Homo sapiens: one gene and its partner. The protein of the gene in region 1 purifies or fractionates together with the protein of each later gene. This does not show direct contact. Each region holds a gene or a part of one and is shown on either strand. Other genes may lie near its edges.

The links.
Region 2: the proteins of OSR2 (region 1) and SCGN purify together in Homo sapiens (affinity purification with mass spectrometry; one large-scale study listed by BioGRID and IntAct). This does not show direct contact.

The regions. Positions count from the first base shown.
Region 1 is NC_000008.11:98,942,897-98,947,484, forward strand, and holds the start of OSR2 (protein odd-skipped-related 2), read left to right. Parts: upstream 1-1,545; 5' UTR 1,546-1,927; intron 1,928-4,588. UniProt on the Homo sapiens protein: May be involved in the development of the mandibular molar tooth germ at the bud stage.
Region 2 is NC_000006.12:25,699,590-25,702,443, forward strand, and holds the end of SCGN (secretagogin), read left to right. Parts: intron 1-1,617; coding exon 1,618-1,746; 3' UTR 1,747-2,194; downstream 2,195-2,854.

The DNA of each region.
Region 1 (4,588 bases):
CATTCTGCTGCTTCCATTCTGTGTGTCAAATCTACTTTGAAGCAGTTAAGTACTGCAGGATATTAAACACTCGAATCTCCGTTTCAAGCTCACTTTTTAATCTTTGCGAACTTAAAATTGGAAAGACAGAAAAAAAATCTGCGACCCCTGTTATGTTTTACCAAAGGAACGAAAAATTCTCTCCACCTCGGCATAAATAAAATAGAAAGAATTTTATCTTAATAAAATAATATCTGGGAGCTTCTGCTTGACTCCCCAATTACTGCTTAACCTTTTGACAGTTTTTAGCCTCTGCTTGTATTTATCTACTTCCCCGCACGATTGAGATTTTTTGAATTGTCCTTTGGGGCGTCTCATTCAAAACCATCTTTCGACGGAACACTTTTGAATTGTACAGCCTCTTGGTTGAAGATCTACGTCCTCAAAGTGCGGGCTTGCCGTGGAGTAACACAGATCCCCTCTGGCAACTCGTCTGGGACGAAGGGCGTTTTTGCTTAGTGTTGATCACGCAAATCACATCTGAAAAGAAGCTGCTTAAAATGGGTGTGTATCATTCCCTTCCTGTCACTCGGTCACCCCTATTCCAGAGAGGTTGAAGTGCTTTTTGCAGTTACACTCACACAAGACCAAACCTTTAGAAGGACCTGAAAAATGTATCACTGCACTTTGAATTCTATTAACTTTCCTGGAGACTGAACATTGAACTCAATTTTTGCTGGGAATGAAGATGTAAATGTTTTGAAAAACTAGAATCGCATTTTCCTAAATTTTAAAAATGATTGTTCTTCACCAATTCCAGATGGATTCTTTATTCTTTGCCAATGGGTTGCAGATGCCCACTGTTTTAACCAAGTTGGTTTACTGCGTATGAAATGAACATTTGCCGATTAAAGCTTAAATATTGGAAGAAATTTCTCCTGGGGCATTCCACGCGTCTTTGCAATAATTACTAAATTAGTCAATTGCCACCTCTGTAAACAAACTTCGTTTAGAAAACAGCAGGCGAAAGCAGACTACACATGTAGTCATAATTGACCAAAAGTATGTACAAAACTGTTTAAAATTGGGGAAAGAGTGATTTATGCTGGAGAATGCAGTCTAGACCTGAATTATTTTACTTTACGGTGAAGGTAGTTGTATTGAATGTGTTAAGATGTGCAAATTAAGCCGGCGAGCGAACCAAATAAAAATACTAAATGCCCTTTGGGATTCTCTGTGGAGTCTTTGAGAGGCAGAGAAGCAGTTGTTGAGTTTCTAATGGTATAAGGAAAAGTGGCAACGAGAAGAAAGGGGGTGGGTATTGTGTTTGTGTGTGAGTTTTGAACTGAGTCACCTACGGCTGCGTCTCTATAACAGGGAAACCTCGAGCAAACCTGTGCCTTTAAGACTCAGTTGCTATCCAAACAGAAGTAAACAGAGTGGACCATTAGCAGACGCCGGGCGCGGAGGCGGAGCCAGGGCGCTGAGGGCCCCGCGCGGCGGCGGGACGCCCGCCCGAAGGGGAGGCGGGGCCGCTACTAAAGCCCAAGACTCCCGGCCTGGGGCAGCCTGGGGAGGGACGCGGGCGGGGACGGAGCTCGGCGTGCTTGCTGCTGGAGGGTGATGGCCCTGCAAGGCTGTGGGCTCCGACCTCACCGGGAGTCGACAGCGAGAGGTTCGCCGAAGAGCGAGGTTCTGGGCGAGCGCTGAACGCCGGCCCCAAGCACCCCGGGTCTTTACACAGTCCGCGTCCACAGACTCTGACGAAGACGTGGATCTGCTCTCGCTTTAGCTGCTCGCGGTCCTCCAGATCATGTCCGCGACTCCTGCGACTCCGCGCGGAAAAAAAAGTTTGCCAGGCGTGGACTCAATGACCTTTCCAAGCTGTGCGCCTCGCTGCCTGGACCGGGTCTGAGCGCGGCTGCCCAGGTTGACCTTTCTGCGGGAGGTGAGTGTTCGCTCTGGGAAGGGGCTGTAGCTGCCCTTTGGAAGGAAGGGTTTGGGGGTGTAAGAGGCGTTCAGATTCTCGGTCTGGTGTGCCCCAAATTCAGATGTGAAAATAGATCATGGGGATGCAATCCCAGGGCACTGTATTTCTCACTTCCTTGGGTCCCTGGCACGCGACTCCCAGCTAACACCCAACCACACACATTTCTACATACTGTTTCTTAATTTTGTTTTGGGATATTTAATCTAAGCGGTCAGCAAGACTTCTTATAAAAGCTGGTCTACGTACACTGAGATCAAACCCCACAATCCCATGGTGTTTCTGCTCCTGCCCTAGCAAGCCTGGGTCGACTTGTCCCGGGGCAGCCGCGGCAGCGCAGCGTGGACGGGCCCGGACACCCGGTGCCTGCCCAGCCAGCGACGCTGAAGGCACATTTCAAGAGGGAAATAGTTCAGTCCTCGGTAATTTGTCAACCTCGTGCTGGCTTTAAAATTCTCCTCCCACCTTCTAGTCCTGACTGAGGGGGCCCAAAAGCAAACTCCCCGGGGGCTTAAACGCTCGGATTCCTGAGAAACGGCAAGTGAGAAAGGAGTTGCAGTTGTACGAAGAAGGAGCGAGGAAAAGGTGTTTGTGGAGGGAGCCCCGGATCTGTCTTCCTACCTGTTAGCCGAGAACAAAAGGGGGCTGGCGTTTCCCGAAGCGAAAGGGCGCAGACAGCCACTTTCTCTGCTAAACAAACTGCAGTCCTGGGCAGAACAAGAAAATTACTCACGCAGGGGGAGCAAGGGGAGCACAGAGAAACAGAACCTAGATTATGCGGAAGGCATCTTAATTTAATTAACTCCTTGGGAAGGCAGAGGCGCTCTGAAGGGGCAGGAACTTCGCAGCCGTTTCTCTATTCACCTGATACAGTCTGGCCCTAACAATCTGTCCTTTAACAATTTTTTTTCTTTTTAATGATCTTCTTTGATCTACTTAGTCTATAGCTCTCTAATTTATATAAAATTCTGCTGTGGTTTGGGCTGAAATTCAGTGAGCCTACCTATCCGACCATCAGTCATTTATCTCATATACCAGTGCACAGGTTTTAGCAGATGAACCCTGACTGTATATTATTTTTAGATAATTCAGTGTAATATTACCATTACCAAAGAGCGAAACTCCTTATCAAGTTACTTCTTAATTTTTTTCTCCAATGTTTTGAAAGCTTCACTGAACTGAAATAAGTGTGTACACATCTTCCTTGGTGACAGCCAGTCAAGTAAATTTTACAAAATTTCTCCACATGCCTGGAAATTCCTGTGAAGAAGACTGATGAAAGAAAAGTAGCCTCAGCTCCACCAACATATTTATGACTTTTCATTGGTTTAAGTTTCTTTCCTTGCAAGATTAAAAGTAACCAGTGGTCTGAAACGGGACGGTGGAGAAATGACAGCAGATGATGATCGCTGTTATTTCCTGAAAGGGAGTGTGGGAACTACAAGGCTCAGCTCTAGACAAAACGAAAGTACTTTAGGATCTCTGCATTCACTTAAAATACTTCTTTTGACATACATTTCCAGCAACTCAATGGGAGTGTGGAAATTTAACCTTCCTAATTATTTGTGGCAAGAGCCATTGGTGGATATTTAAGGTTGTTCTGTTTGTAAAAGGGTTTCAAAAGGACCAATGGTTTGCTCTTCCTCTATGAAGAAACTATCTGCCCTACAAATTAAAACAAACAGGTACTATGAAATAGCACTTTTTTTTTTTACTAACATGAACCTGAATTATATTAGTCGTTAATTTCTGTATTATAAACCATTCAGAGAAAAGGGAAAGAAGATGGCACTCAACTTTGTGGCAGTGTAACCTTTATGGCAGAGTTCGCTGTGCCTTTGGTATAGAAATCACAGGTCACAACAGTACTTTAGCCAACACCACTCCCCCACATGCCCGCTCCCCCCTCCCCAACGCATACACCCTGTGGTGGGAGTTGTGCTTTGCCTCCTGTATTTATTTCTAAGAAATCTAGTCTGGGAATACACCCAAATAATAATTTCGGTTTCCTCTCTATGGGAAAGAGGTTGCTTTTCAACACGAAGGGAAAAATAATATTTTGAATCTCTGGAAAATCCTCATTACGCAAAGAGAAGGAAATAAAGGTATAAATTATTATTTTTAATTGAAAGGGAAATAATCAGGTAGATTACCAGGAATGTTAGTAGAATCCTTTTCCCCTGCCTCCCTAAGAGACTTGCCACCGAGCAAAAATGAATCGTGATTTGTGGTGGGAAAGTTGATTACTAATGGGGGTTTGCAGTTGCGGTTGAATGGTCTGACTGAGACCCTCTGACTGTTACCCACCTCTCATTAACTCTTAGCCTGAACTCCCAGACCGCATACCACCAAGCAGAAGCGATTCGTTAATAAATCTCTGTCCCGAGCCCTTCCAGAGGAAGGTGTGGGCCCCGCAGAGGCAGCCAGATCCTGCCTTGCCAGAGCGCTCTGTCATTAGCGTAGCCCCCTAAGTCTGCTCACAGATGGAACCATAGGCAATACTTCATAACGCGCTGGAGAGGACAAGTCAGACGCAGGAAGGGGTTGGGTGGGAAGGGAAGGCTGGAGTCTCTCCTGCCTTCCTGCTGGGTTCAAATGCCAGGCTTGGCGGTTGGTGGCACA
Region 2 (2,854 bases), on another chromosome or scaffold:
AAAAAAAAAAAAAAAAAAAAAGAAAAGAAAATGGGAAAATGGAGGACACACTTTTCAGTGTAAACCAGGGTGCAGAGAACAAAAGGGGGTTTGGATTTTACAAAGTCAGTGCCCACCCATGTTGCCAGTTAGTTCTGTTTGTGCAAATAAAGGATTCAAACTTGCTTAGTTCTGATTGGTTATTGGAGCCAAGTTCTGATTGGTCAATAGAGCTGAGTCCTGATTGGTTAATTTAACTGAGTTCTGATTGGTTGGTTCGGGTGAGCTCTGAAAGCCCTAAAAAGAAAAAGGTGCTGGTTTTCAGGGTACTTGAGTAAGCTGTCATCTCTAGTCAAAAAAGGGCCACTTGGATCTATTTTAAATTTAGGGCCAGTGGCCGGGCACGGTGGCTCACTCCTGTAATCCTAGCACTTTGGGAGGCCAAGGTGGGCGGATCACCAGGGGTCAGGAGTTTAAGACCAGCCTGGCCAACAGGATGAAACCCTATCTCTACTAAAATACAAAAATTAGCCGGGCATGATGGCGGGTGACTGTAAGCCCAGCCACTCGGGAAGCTGAGATGGGAGAATCGCTTGAACCCGGGAGACGGTAGTTGCAGTGAGCCGAGATCACTGCCACTGCACTCCAGCAGGGACGGCTGCGACTTCGTCTCAAAAAAAAAAAAAAAAAAAAATTTTGGGCCAGTAAACCACGTGAGATCCATTTTGAAGGATGGGCTCTTTGATTTTGACGTTTATTCACAGATGCATCAGCACACATGTAGTTTCATTAGACCAGCCTTTTCTCCATGAGAATGGTATGAAATTTTGCAATGAGCACTCAATTGGAATCAGAGGACTATTGAGGACTGTCTCCAATTGTCAGAGGACTGTTGGACTATTCTTGGGCTCAAAAATGCTGCCACAACTTTCCAGCTTGGCAGGAAGCTTAAGCTTTCTCTGCACCTCTGTTTCCTAATTTGTAAAAGAGGTGGAATTATTTACTTCCCAGCATTATTGTGAAGCTTACATGAAATAACCTATGGAGAATCAATTTGTTAAAGCATTCCTCACTTTTGCAGGCCTTTGAGCTTGAAGTAAAAAACTTTTCCTAGCTAACATGTGTCACGTTTCTAGCTAACATTCTTTCTTGCCCCCTAACATATCCCTTGGAGTAAATATTACATCCCTAGCTCAACCACATGTTTTAAATTTACATTCAGTATAACCATTTTTTTTTAAACCAGAGGCACAAAAATCTCCTACAAGGAGATAATGAAATGTGTCTTCTCTCATCAGTGCAGCAAGGCAGAAATTTATGATCATAATTGCCTACTTTGCGGCAAAGTATCTTTACTATGGTTGCTAATAAGGCAGTCTTTTTCTAAGAACTGCAGGGAAGTGATGTGGAAGTAAAGGTTTTTTGGCCTGAAGGGACATGCTGAGAAATGAAGCTGTTGGCAGAAAACTTATCCTTGGCAGCATTTGGTGGGATGAGGCGATAGACTCATTCCCTCACTCCCTGTGGCCTGTCTCCTTCAAGGCAGGACACCCTAAGCTTAGGGAGCATCAGAGAGGGTGTTAAAGGGTGAGAACACCATTGGCTTGCCTGTTAACATGTTACTTTTGTCGCCCTCAGCCCAGCATCAGCGGGGTGGACCTTGATAAGTTCCGCGAGATTCTCCTGCGTCACTGCGACGTGAACAAGGATGGAAAAATTCAGAAGTCTGAGCTGGCTTTGTGTCTTGGGCTGAAAATCAACCCATAATCCCAGACTGCTTTGCCTTTTGCTCTTACTATGTTTCTGTGATCTTGCTGGTAGAATTGTATCTGTGCATTGATGTTGGGAACACAGTGGGCAAACTCACAAATGGTGTGCTATTCTTGGGCAAGAACAGGGACGCTAGGGCCTTCCTTCCACCGGCGTGATCTATCCCTGTCTCACTGAAAGCCCCTGTGTAGTGTCTGTGTTGTTTTCCCTTGACCCTGGGCTTTCCTATCCTCCCAAAGACTCAGCTCCCCTGTTAGATGGCTCTGCCTGTCCTTCCCCAGTCACCAGGGTGGGGGGGACAGGGGCAGCTGAGTGCATTCATTTTGTGCTTTTCTTGTGGGCTTTCTGCTTAGTCTGAAAGGTGTGTGGCATTCATGGCAATCCTGTAACTTCAACATAGATTTTTTTGTGTGTGTGGAAATAAATCTGCAATTGGAAACAAAAATGTACTGGTAATTGCTTTTGTCTTGTGACCTTTGAAATGTTCTACCTGATGGTTTGACTAACAAACCCCTTATCTAATGGGGATCGGGGGAATGGTGGAGAAGGAGAGTGAAGGGCAATATCTTAAAAGAAATCCACACCACCAATCCTTCTATAGTCCTCACATGCCCTCACTAGGGCTGACTTCCTGGTGAGCTGGCATTAAAGTGAGAGCTGCCAATAATCACTTTTTATTGGAAGGAGGAGACCAGAACACTCATCCTGGACTGGGGTTTGTTCTTAAGTGCTTGGTGAGCTCACATGGCTAGGCAGGTAGATATAGAGAAGAAGTATGAAGAAAATGTTTCCCAAGTAACCCGGGCTCCCCTCTCCATCCCTTCCTTTTCCAACAGTGCTCCCCAGCAAATCTGGGACCACGACAGCCTTCTTCTAGGTACGTGAGTGCCTCTCATGGGTGCCTCTGCATGCTCCTGGCCCCAACATGTGCCCTGCTCTCTTCTCTCCTGGAACTCTGATGCCATCCCCATGGAAAGGAGACTGTTGGGGCAAGGGGAGAGTTTCTGCAGGGTAGGCCCCACTTTCCTTTACTGTCTTCATCCTTTATTCTTCATAACACCCCTACCTTATACTAGACTGTGTAGTAATTTCAGGCTTAGTGAAG